Linked DNA regions of Homo sapiens: all the other regions are linked to region 1. Evidence: fine-mapped expression QTL. A gene starts in region 1. Each other region holds a variant in brackets. All regions are shown on one strand. Distances are from middle to middle.

Region 1 (4,246 bases):
ATTAGCATGCCTATCAGCTCAAACATTTGTCATTTCTTTGTGTTGGGAATGCTCAATATCCTCGTTGCTATTTGAAACTATGTTATTGACTATAGTCACCCTCCAGTGGTGCAGAACACTAGAACCTGTCATTTTGTATCCTTTAACAAATCTCTCCCTATTCCACCCTTTACCCTAGTATGCCAATTTAAACAGTTAATAGATTTTGGCAAACTGTCCTCCTAGGAGGTCCCTTTCCAGCGGTGAGTGAAAGTGTTTCCCACACCAGTGAAAAAGGTTTATTACATAATTGAGGCTGCCTGTGGGAGCAAAGAGGGCCTCCCAGCTGGTCAGAAAATGGCTAGAGAGAGCCAGGAAAGGAGACAAGCTTGGGGCTTTTATTGTGGTTAAGGGGTGAGGCTGGGAGGAGGGTATCCTGTGCACGCAGATGAAATCTGCCAGCACCAAAAAGAGCACCTAGGCTTTTTTTAACAGCTTGCCCAGATGTGGAGAAGAAAGAGGGAGTGCTGCGTAAAAGCTGCCAGCAGCCAAATGTCAGCAGCAAAAAATGGAGTCAGATTTCTTATATAAAAAGATGTTGGAAGTGGTATCAGAACAGTGCAGGGCCAAGTATCTCACTGGTCACTCTTCATGGGTTTGTATGGTACCTTTGCTCTCACTTACCTCTTGTGCAACAGCTGATTCCCCCTGACTTTCTCATGGTATCCCACTCCCAGGCATAGACATGCGCATGCACACATGCTTGTTTCTGTCCTTACGGATAGTGGAAACATGAACCAGGACCTGGACGAGTTTTTGGTCAGAGCTGTATCATGGCTCCTAGGAGAGTTTAATACTTTAGGTTTCAACCAAAGGAGACAGAGATCTGGCAGAAGGCCCTGAAGCCTAGAAGCAAGTACCCCCGCTCCTACCACCACCACCTAGGCAGGTGTGAGACAAGGATCCAGGCAGCTGCTGTTAGACTCTATAGCTGTTGGATGGTTTTGGCATTCCTAAACCTCTCTACTGCTTGCAAACGTGGAAGAACTGATTTTAAAAACCCACTCCATTTGCCTCTGGGCAGTTCTTACTCACAAAGGACGGGTCGTCTTGGCCGCACAGTTGTCTGTGGGTTGCATCATTTAACAGCTGAGAAAATGCTCCTCAAGAAGTTGTGACTTGCCCAAGGTGGCAGGGCAGGGCTAGGACTAGTACTCACCCTTTCTCACTGCTCATCCAGTGCCCTTAATTCCCCACGGGCTAATGGGACAGAACCCTGTTAAATGGTATCCAGTTTTTGTTTGGTTGGTTGGTTGGGTTTTTTTGAGACAGAGTCTTGCTCTATTGCTCAGGATGGAGTGCAGTGGCTCGATCTCGGCTCACTGCAACATCCACCTCCCAGATTCAAGCGATTCTCCTGCCTCAGCTTCCCGAGTAGCTGGGATTATGGGTGCCCACCACCATACCCAGCTAATTTTTGTATTTTTAGTAGAGACGGGGTTTCATCATGTTCACCAGGCTGGTCTCAAACTCCTGACCTCAAGTGATCTGTCCACCTCGGCCTCCCAAAGTGTTGGGAGGCTGAGGCATGAGCCAGCGCGCCAGGTTTTAATTCTCAATGAGAACACTATTTTTGTTGACAATGAGACGCCCAGAAGATAGCGCCTTTCTGGGGACAGTTGAGAATTTAATAGTGCTTCCGCATTTCTAACTTTTATCCCTCCCCCCTCCCACGGACTGTTTTCCTCTATTCCACTTTTCCTCTTTCATAAGTATTTGATTGCAGGTTGGTATCCTGTATCCAAGCACAGCGCTTGGCATCGAGTAGGCGCTCAATTTTATTTGGTGAATATGAGTTGGAGGAATATTTGATGAATGAATGGAAGATGAATTAATCATCAGGGTCAGCAAGTGATGAACCACAACTTGGTCCAGTTCTTTAGTCCTCTAGTCTCCTGGTGAGACTCCACAGCTCCGCTAACACGACCGGGCCTTCGTGGGCCTGACAACAGACCTGACATCCCACGGGCGGGAGAGGCGTCAGCCCGAGGCTGGGATGCTCGGCCGGAACGGCGGCTGGCGGCAGGCTGGGCCCAGGGAGCTGCGCGCGCAACCACTCGGGCTGTGGCTCCGGTGACCGCTCTCCCTGGCAACGGTTTGTTCCTAGCAACCAGCCTGAGGTCTGGAGGTGGTGCGGAGGGAGCCGCCTAGGGACCAGGGACTCCTGCCATGAATCCGCCGGGGTCCCTAGAGGCCCTGGACCCGAACGTGGACGAGCACTTGTCCACCCAGATTCTCGCGCCCTCGGTCCACTCCGACAACTCTCAGGAGCGCATCCAGGCCCGGCGCCTCCGCATCGCTGCGCGCTTAGAAGCCCGGAGGCGGTGAGCGCGGGGGCGGGCGGGGCGGGATCCGCGCCGCAGGAGCCGGAGAAGGGCTGGTTTCCTGATGAAATAGAAACATTTCTTCGGGAAGGTTCAGGCAGAGTATGGGAAAGTAAAACGCTGGGCCGGTGCCGTGGCGCGCGCCTGTCATCCCAGCACTTAGGGAGGCCGAGGCGGGCCGATCACTGGAGCCCAGGAGTTGGAGATGGTCAACCTGGGCAGCATAGAGAGACCCCATCTCTATAAAACATCAAACAATTAATCGGGCGTGGTGGCGTTCGACTGTGGTCTGCACATGGCATCTTTTCCACTACGGACACCTCCAAACCACAGGGTCTGCTGGATCATGTGGCCCAAGTAGCCTGGCTGCTTACACTGTGGCCTGGGTCCTTTCTTGTTCCAGGCACCACTCAAAGCTGGCAGCTTTTTGTGTCAGCCTGAATAATATTCCTAAGTGCGGGATGTATTGTCTCTAGGACCCAAAGTGGCCTAAGAGGCATTGAGTTTCCTTCTCTGTAGAGGATGCAAAATGCAGTAGATTTGTTTTTTACTTGATAGGCTATCCCAGCATCCCACTGACCACTGGACCCCTACAAACTTGAATGACATGGCAGTCCCTGGGCCTTCATAGGGTTGATTGCCCACCGTCTGGAGCACACATGTCTTACCAAGCCCTGCAGTGTGTTTCCATCACTCGCTCACCCTGGCTGATTGCTGCGGGGCCATCAGTGGAATGCAGGGGCCGGCAAACCCTTTCAGTAAAGGGCCAAATAGTAAATATTTTAGGCTTTTCGGATCATATGGCCTCTTTCCTAGCTGCTCAATTGCCATTGTATTGCAAAAGCAGCCACAGGCAAGACATAAACAAATGGGCATGACTGTGTTCCAATAAAGCTTTATTTATGGACACTGAAATTTGAATTTCATATACTGTTCATGTATCACAAAATAGCCTTCTTTTGATAAAAAATAATAATAAACTTTATTTTTTAGAGCAGTTTTTAGGACCACAGCAAAACTGATCAAAAAGTATAGCATTCGCATATACTCCCTGCCCCCACACATGCACAGCTACTGTCAACATCCTGCACTGGAGGGCACATTTGTAACAATATATGAACCTTGGCGCATCGTTATCACTTGAACTCCATTGTTTACCTTAGGGTTTCTTTTTGGTGTTGTACATCCTATGGGTTTGGATAAATTTATGGTGACACGAGCCCACCAGTATAGTATTATACCAAATATTTTTACTGCCCTAAAAATCCCCTGTGCTCTGCTTATTCATCCTAGTCTTTTTTTAACCATTTATTTATTAACCATTTAGAATTGTAAAAATCATTTAAAATTGTAAAAACCATTTAAAATTGTAAAAAATCGTAGCTCATGCCTGTAATCCCAGCACTTTGGGAGGCCAAGGCAGGAGGATCACCTGAGGTCAGGAGTTCAAGACCAGCCTGGCCAACATGGCGAAACCCTGTCTGTACTAAAAATACAAAAATTAGCCAGGTGTGGTGGCAGGCACCTGTAATCTCAGCTACTTGGGAGGCTGAGGCAGGAGAATTGCTCGAACCTGGGAGGCAGAGGTTGCAGTGAGCTGAGATAGCGCCACTGCACTCCAGCCTGGGTGACAAGCACAAAACTCCATCTCAAAAAAAAAAAAAAAAAAAATTGGGCCGGGCGCAGTGGCTCATGCCTGTAATCCCAAAACTTTGGGAGGCTGAGGCGGGCGGGATCACGAGGTCAGGAGTTTGAGACCAGCCTGACCGACATGGTGAAACCCTGTCTCTATTAAAAATACAAAAATTAGCCAGGCATGGTGGCGCGCGCCTGTAATCCCAGCTACTCAGGAGACTGAGGCAGGAGAATCGCTTGAACCCAGG
Region 2 (4,246 bases), 34 kb after region 1:
TAGTTCTTTCCTGTGTCAGATGGAAACCGAGGCTACCTGTACCACTTTCCACACTGTAACAGAGGGAAAAAAAAAATCATCCAATCAGGGACTACCCATGTGGCAACATGTGGAATGTTTTAGTAGGTTAAACTTTATCATAGTGACTCTTAAGTGTATTTTCACTAGACATTCAAGCCAAATGGCACTGATTTTTGTTAAGAAGATATAACATGCAGCTCAACATCAAATTTGCTCTTTGCAACTAATGCATAGCACTCTATCAGTTCTAAAATATGGAACTAAAATTCTTGCAAACCACAAAAATAGGAAGGATACAGTACACATAGATTTGGATGATGGGTAAAGTACAAGAAGTAAAAAAAAATGTCTTACTATTCAAGTGCTTACTGCCAGTAAAGGTCATGTTATGAATAACAGAGCAAAGAGAAGCCTGTAAACATTGTGTACTTAGGGGGAAACTCCCTACCGCTGCCCACCACCCTAAAAGAAAACTGCTAGAAACATTTAATTCTTGATGCAGGAAGCAAATGTTTTTATCTGTAGGCCTTATACAATCATTTAGGATTGTAAGATGTTCAGCTTAAACTTAGGGGCTGTTACCTTTAAAACCAGAATATTAATCCCCCCAAATTAAATATGTTGTTTATTTACACTATATTAATTTACATTGTGCAAAGCACAGAGATAAGCAAAGTACAGCTCCTGCCCTCAAGGAACTTATAATCTATTAAGAAAGCAAGCTACCGCCAGGCACGGTGGCTCATGCCTGTAATCCCAGCACTTTGGGAGGCCGAGGCAGGTGGATCATGAGGTCGGGAGATCGAGATCATCCTGGCTAACATGGTGAAACCACGTCTCTACTAAAAATACAAAAAATTAGCCGGGTGTGGTGGCGGGCGCCTGTAGTCCCAGCTACTCAGTAGGCTGAGGCAGGAGAATGGTGTGAACCAGGGAGGCGGAGCTTGCAGTCAGCCGAGATTTCACCACTGCACTCCAGCCTGGGTGACAGAGCGAGACTCCGTCTCAAAAAAAAAAAAAAAGAAAGAAAGCTACACAAATAGTGTCAAAGAGAAAGAGATGGGGCAGAAAGGGGGAGCAACAGTGTGGCCTGAGATGACATTGCCAGTCTTAGGGTTCCAACATGGAATCCTGCAGGCCCAGTTTAGGGTCGAGATTGTGGTAAATAGGCCCAGTGGGGTCTCTAGAGTCAGCAGAGAAGGCCAGAGGGAAAGACTGTTTTAAATTTCCATCCTGCTGGCACATTGGTGGCAGTCTCTTTCCCTGAGCCCATGGGCAAGAGATGACACCCAAAAGCAGCTGTGGAGAAGCTTGTGCTGCTCCAGGAAAAAGGAGGGAAGGTGTTGTCAACACTTATGCTACCTTTACCGTAGAAGGACTTTTGTGGCAGGTTAGCTTGTAATCTTTATTGATGACTCATAAAACACAAACATCATGTTTTGCCATTAGTCTTGGGAACATGAACTGCAACTTTGCAAAAATATCTTTGGATAATTGAATAATAAGCACAGACATTTAACAAAATCAATTACAGGTATTTTTAACTTTTATTTTAGGTTCAGGGTACATGTGCAGGTTTGTTATATGGGTAAACTGCACGTCATAGGGGTTTGCTGTACAGATTATTTCATTACCCGGGTAATAAGCATAGTACTCGATAGGTAGTTTTTTGATCCTCTCCCTGCTCCCAAACTCCACCCTCAAGTGGGCCCCAGTGTCTACTGTTCCCCTCTTTGTGTCC[A/C]TGTGTTCTCATTGGTCCCACTTATAGTGAGAACATGTGGTATTTGGTTTTCTGTTCCTATGTTAGTTTGCTTAGGATAATAGCCTCCAGCTCCAATTATGTTGCTGCAAAGGACATATTCTCATTCTTTTTTTTTTTTTAAACTTTATGTCAAACCGTATGATGTTGTTCTTTTTATGGCTGCATAATATTCCATGGTGTATACGTACCACATTTTAAAAATCCATTCTACCGTTGATGGGCATCTAGGTTGATTCCATGTCTTTGCTATTGTGAATAGGCTGCAATGAACATATGCATGCATGTGTCTTTGTGGTAGAACCATTTATATTCCTTTGGGTATATATCCAATAATGAGATTGCTGGGTCAAATGGTAGCTCCGTTTTACGTTCTTTGAGGAATTGCCACACTGCTTTCTACAATGCCTGAACTAATTTACCTTCCCTCCAGCAGTGTGTAAGCATTCCTTTTTCTCTGCAACCTCACCAGCATCTCCTGTTTCTTTTTTTTTTTTCACTTTTTAATAATAGCCATTCTGACTGGTGTGAGATGGTATCTCATCGTGGTTTTGATTAGCATTTCTCTAATGATTAGTGATGCTGATCATTTTGTCATATGTTTGTTGGCTGCATGTATGCCTTCTTTTGAAAAGTGTTGTTCATGTTCTTTGCCCACCCACTCCCCCTGCCCTTTATTTTTTGGAGACAGGGTCTTCCTCTGTTGCTCAGACTGTAGTGCAGTGGCATGATCTCGGCTCACTGCAGCCTCGACTTCCCAGCAGGCTCAAGCAAACCTCCCACCTCAGTCTCCCGAATAGCTGGGACTACAGGCACATGCCACCATGCCTGGCTAATTTAAATTTTTTTTTGTAGAGATAGGTTCTCACTTTGTTGCCCAGGGTGGTCTCGAATTCCTGGCCTCAAGCAATCCTCCCTCTTTGGTCTCCCAAAGTGCTGGGATTACAGGCATGAGCCAACATGCCCAGCCATCCATATACATATTATTATGTAATAACCTGCCTTTAAGAATGAAATTCACATGAGCATGCATATGGTAGAGCTTGCATTTATAGTTCACATGCTCTTGTTGTATTGTAAATATAAAAACAATCCTATGGCCAAATAAGTCTGGGAAATGCTGTCTTAGGGATAGGGGATTATTGCAAGGCCAGGAGAAGAAGGAGGGCTTCCTGGAAATCATCGGAGTAGACATTCAGGCACTCTGGGTCTCAGGGCCCCCACATGGGTCAGTTCCCGGGAAGACAGAACAGCCATTCATTGTCATCCCAAATGGAGAGCAGTTCCGAAGACCCTCCTTCTCTGTGAGTGCTCATACGTTCTCAGATGGTTACATCCCATATGGAGCTTTTCTATTGGACTTTTGTGCCGAGCTGCCTTATAGACCAATGGCTTCCCTTATGTTCAGTCCACGTGTATTTGGTTTGTGTTCTGATTCCTGACCCACTCACGATGACCAAGGTTGGTAACATTTGAAGTGGCAGAGCTGGTTTCATTTGAGGAATGGAGGCATAAATCATTGCAACTTTGCAAGAAGAGCTTCTGAGAATCCCTTTCCTGGGAGACACTCAGGGCCATCCCTAGAAGGGGACAGGGCCCAAAGCAACTCAGCCTGGGACCACCCAGATAACTGCCATTGAAATGAGGCTGTGCTGTTGTTGGCATCATCCATAGGTCCTTTGGGATACTGTTCAACTCAGACATTTCAAAATTAAATTTTAAACAGGCTCAGAAAGGGTCCTTTGTAGTTGTAGTTGAAGCTTCTGGCAGCTCCCTGCCCTGCCCCAGGTTCCCTCCGCAAGGGCCAGGCCTGCACTTGGAGCTGCAGGGTCTGCCCGGCACGATGCTCAGTGCTGACAGGATGGGGTGAGGTGGGCACTTGCACCCATGGCCAGTGGGAGCATAAACCATAGGTTGCTCTTTGGAAAGCAATTTATTGAGAACTTTTGACTTAGTCATTTCACTTCTACGAATCTACCATAAGGAAATAAATTTCCCTAAGAGTTGTATATATAATTTGTCCCAGCATTATTTTATAGAAGAGAAAATTATTAAAAGTATATATAACTATATATATATACACACACACACACGACTGTAGGGAAATGGTAAATTATTATGACATGGTAAACATATTAAATATTTCATATATGATGAAGCGGCATAGTATATAAAAGTATTCTAGCCTGTAATCCCAGCACTTTGGGAAGTCAAGGCGGGCAGATCACCTGAGGTCGGGAGTTTGAGACAAGCCTGGCCAACATGGTGAAACCCCATCTCTACTAAAAATACAAAAATTAGCTGGGCGTGGCGGTGGCACACACCTGTAATCCCAGCTATTTGGGAGGCTGAGGCAGGAGAATCATTTGAACCCGGGAAGTGGAGGTTGCAGTGAGCTGAGATCATGCCACTGCACTCCAGCCTGGGCGAGAAAGACTCTATCTCAAAAAAAAAAAAAAAAAAAAA
Region 3 (4,246 bases), 23 kb before region 1:
TTATGTAGTGACCCTTTTGATTGTCCCATGGCAGGTTTCCTGCATGTTACATTTAAGTGTTAAATTTAGATAAGACAGAATCCTCTGGTATATGAGACATATTTTTTAATGTTAAGTGTGTACTCTAATAGGCACATAATTTTCTTTATAATGTTTCTACTTTTATATAATAAACCCCTGTGTACTATTACCCAGTCTCAACTATTTTCAATACCAGTGCCAATCTTGTTTGAAATGCACCAGTACTCTTTAGCCCCCTGCTTAGCCCCCGGGTTGTGTTATAATATACAGTTTATTTACTTACTGACATATTTGCCTTATATTTGACCTACCATGTGGTGTTCTTTCCCAGAAGTTTGAAGGACTTCCTTTAGGTTTTTTTATAGTGCAGGTCTGGTAGCAGTTTATTCTCTCTTTTTACTTACGTGAAAGTGTATTGATTTTGCCTGAATTTTTTCTTTTGGCATTTTGAATATATCATTTTAATGTCTTTTGACATCCATTGTTTCTGAGTCAGCTCATATATCATTGTCACTCTGTAATGTATTATTTTTCTCTTGTTGCTTTCAAGGTTCTCTTTTTATCTTTGGCTTTCGGAAGTTTGACTGTGATGTACCTAGGTGTGGTTTTCTTTGTGTTTGTCTTTCTTGGTATTTGTTGAGCTGTTGACTCTGTTGGACCTGTAAGTATTTTTGACTGAATGTGTGAAGTTTTCAGTCACAGTTTCACTTCTTGAGATATTTTTTCTTCCCCTCTCTCTTCTTTTCTGGGACCCCACTTACATGTGTGTTACACAGGTTTGCCTGATACTGTCCTAAAAGTAATTTTCTATGGCTTTATTAAGTTTTCTTTAATCTCTTTATTCTTTGTAGTGGATAACTTTTATTCATCTGTCTTTAAATTCATTGCTTTTTTTTTCTTCTGCCATCTCCAATATGCTGTTGAGCCCATCTAGGAAGTCTTTCATTTAAGTTATTGTACTTTTCCCTGGGTGCGGTGGCTCACACCTGTAGTCCCAGCACTTTGAGAGGCTGAGGTGGGAGGATTGCTTGAGGCCAGGAAGTCAAGACCAGCCTGGGTAACATAGTGGGATCACGTCTCTACAAAAAAATAGAAAAATTAAGCCAAATATGGTGGTGCATGCCTGTAGTCCCAGTTACTTGGGAGGCTGAGGCAGGAGGATCACTTGAGCCCAGGAAGTCGAGGCTGCAGTGAGCTGTAATTGTGCCACTGTACTCCAGCCTGGGCAACAGAGTCAGACCCTGTCTCAAAAAAAAAAAAGTTATTGTACTTTTCAGCTGTAGAATTTCCATTTGGTTTTTAAACTTTCTATTTCTCTGTTGAGATTCTTCTGTTCATTATTATCATCATATTTTCCTTTAGTTCTTTGAACATATTTAAAATTGCTGCTTTAAAGTCTGTCTACTGAGTCCAACATCTGGGCCCACTTAAGAGTCATTTTCTGTTGACTGCTTTTTTTTCTATTTCTTTGCATACCTAGCAATTTTTTTTTTGTTGTTGTTGAAAACTGGATATTATAGATTATATTTGTGGAGACTATAATCTGTTCTGCTCTGAGGATTTTTGGTTTTTTGTTCTGATAGGCATTTAACTTGTTTGGACACAGATGAAGAAATTTGTCCCATCACATTGTATTAAGTAGCTCTTGTCTCTGTTTGGTTATTTTCAGCTTTTAGCTGCTGCTTTTTTAGCCAGGTCTCTTGGGGGTCTCCTTTGTGTCTGTGTAGTTTAGTGGTCAGCCAAAGATTTGGGCAAAGTCGATACTGAGATTTTGGCGCTCACCTCTCTATGATTTTTTTGCTTTTGGGGTTTCCCCATCTGAATCTTCGGCTGCTCTTCCAGCAATTGTGTTCTGCCCCCAACCCTCAAGCCAGTAAGGGCTCTGCCTTCTTCAGCCCAGTCTGAGTGTGGGTTGGGAACACACTTAGTAAGAGATACAGCAGACTCACATCTCACCAAGAACACCTCTGTCTTTCAAGCACAGCATCTCCTCTACTTTCTGCCTTCTCTTTCACTATGTTCTGTGGGGTCTCCGATTTGCTTGCTTAGTTTAGCATCCACCCAGGAATCTGGGCAGAGCATATACTCAGATTTAGAATCTCAACCCTTCTGCATCTCTCTCTTCTACAATATCCCCCACCCTGCTTTCTAGTTCCTCTGCTGCTCTGAATCTATTATCTGCTTCCATAAGCTGGTAAGGAAGACTGTGGCTTTCCATCATCTGGTCTGGGACAG[G/A]GGGTAGGCAAGCCACGAACTCAGAGTTGTTCCCCAGTGTTTCAAGTGTAAATGCTTCTCGAATTTCTGTCTGTCCTTCAGTATTTTCTAGTACCTTCAAGTAGTTGTTTTAAATATTTTTGTCTGGTTTTTAATCATCATTTGTGAGAAGAATTGTCCTCCCTTTTTATGCCATCATTAACAGATGCCTTCCTTCCTTTAGATTATTTTAAAGCAAATCCCAGATATCATTTCTTTTCATCCGTAAATATTTCACTGTGTATCTCTAAATGATAAGGTTTTCTGTAAAAGAACCACAATTGATGTATTTCTATAGCTGCCGAGTACCTATACATTGCCTTTGGTTGGTATGCCTTTTAAATTTCTGTTAATCTGGCTGGGTGCTGTGGCTCACACCTATAATACCAGAACTTTAGGAGGCCAAGACAGGCTGATCATCTGAGGGCAGGAGTTTGAGACCAGCCTGGCCAATGTGGTCTCTACTAAAAATACAAAATTAGCCGGGTGTGGTGGCGTATGCCTGTAATCCCAGCTACTCGGGAGGCTGAGGCAGGAGAATCGCTTGAACCTGGGAGGTGGAGGTTGCAGTGAGTCAAGATTGCACCATTGCCAGCCTGGGTGAGAAGAGCGCAACTCTGTCTCTAAAATAAATAACTAATTAAAAAATTTCTTTTAATCTACGTAGCTTTTCCCTATTTTTTCTTTGAAGTTTATGTATTGAAGAAAGTAGGTCATTTGGCCAATAGAATTCTTAGATTCTGCGTTTTCCTGGTTGCGGTCTCATGGCATTAACATGTTCCTCTGCCCCTCACTTTTCCTATAAACAATAGTTAGATCTGTGAGCTTATTTTGATACAGGTTTAATTTTGGGGGTTGGGGGGCATGCTGGGGAACAGTGTTATTAGGTACTGGTCTTCCTATTGCATCACATTAGGAGGCATGTAGCGGGTTCAGGTTTTGTATGTCTGTTCCATCTGCTGCAAGTATATATATATATATATTTTAACCTGCTACCTTAAACTATTAAGGGTTAAACTTCACCTAATAATATTAACAGACATTGATTAACATGGCTTAGGAATTCATTCATTCAGTGGATAGGTAAGGAAATCAAGTTTTTATGATAAAATACTTCATAAATACATACTGATAATTCCAAAGCAAATTTGGTAGTACAGAATTTTTACTTAACCTCATTGATCTTATATTTTTATCTCCTTTAAACTATGACAAAATCCTTGGTTTTAAGTGACACAGAATACTCATTTGCTTTATTCCATGAACTATTCACAACAGTCTCCGAATACAGTACCTAAATCAGCAAACAGAGGAAAACTGAAAATTAAGATTTTGTTTTTTTGCAGTTTTATTCATCCTTACGTCTTATCCCACTAGGTGTGTCCCGTCAGTTTACTGTATTTTAAAGTCACCACTCTGTGGTTATGCCACCAGTTGTGGATTTATACATCTAGGTTTATTTGTTTTACTTTAAGAATTACTTTCTCTTTTAAAATTCATTTTTCCTTTATAATTATGTAAAATATTTGTGATAAAGTCAAATTTACAGAATGAGGTATATTCAAAGAAGTCTAGCTTCTGTTGTTACCCAATCCTTTCTTTCCTCAGAGGTAACCATTCTTAGTTTTTAATTTTATGGCTTATCTTTTCATTGTTTCTTTCTTACTATAAGTAAATATTTGTGTTTCATTTTATCACTCACTTTCATAGATACATGGTAGCATTCCATTCTATATGTACTGTACTATGTACTGTGCCTTTTTTCCTCCCCCCTCTTAATTGTATATCCCAGCGATCACTCCACAGTGGTCTATAAGGAGCCTCCTCAGTCCTCTTACAGCTGCCTGGCACTTCATTGTGTGGATGTACCGTAGTGTGTCCAACCATCCCCCTATCAATAGACATTTGGGTTAGTTCCAGTTTTTGCTGTTGTACAAATTGCTGCAGTGAATAGTCTTGTACATCAGTCTTT

Alleles and levels. Alleles are on the strand shown, and positions count from the first base shown. SD is a standard deviation of normalised expression in the study named.
With allele A in place of C in region 2, the expression in testis of the gene that starts at base 2,139 in region 1 is higher (small effect, 0.31 SD a copy in GTEx).
For the expression in cerebral cortex of the gene that starts at base 2,139 in region 1, allele G in region 3 goes with a higher level than allele A (small effect, 0.39 SD a copy in GTEx).

The links. PIP is the estimated chance that this variant, and not a neighbour inherited with it, causes the effect. A credible set is the group of variants that fine-mapping cannot tell apart.
Region 2: its variant is the best candidate, but not a certain one, in a credible set for the expression of DRC1 in testis (GTEx, PIP 0.50).
Region 3: its variant is the best candidate, but not a certain one, in a credible set for the expression of DRC1 in cerebral cortex (GTEx, PIP 0.69).

The regions. Positions count from the first base shown.
Region 1 is chr2:26,399,782-26,404,027 of GRCh38, forward strand. DRC1 (dynein regulatory complex subunit 1) reads left to right here and starts at 2,139. Exons shown (of 17, transcript NM_145038.5): 1 at 2,139-2,363. The coding sequence starts at 2,209.
Region 2 is chr2:26,433,863-26,438,108 of GRCh38, forward strand. The region is part of intron 7 of DRC1 (dynein regulatory complex subunit 1); the gene reads left to right. Among named protein-coding and RNA genes, the nearest start is that of DRC1, 34 kb to the left of the region's middle. The variant A/C (reference allele first, on the strand shown) is at 1,763.
Region 3 is chr2:26,376,363-26,380,608 of GRCh38, forward strand. The region is part of intron 6 of SELENOI (selenoprotein I); the gene reads left to right. Among named protein-coding and RNA genes, the nearest start is that of DRC1, 23 kb to the right of the region's middle. The variant G/A (reference allele first, on the strand shown) is at 2,257.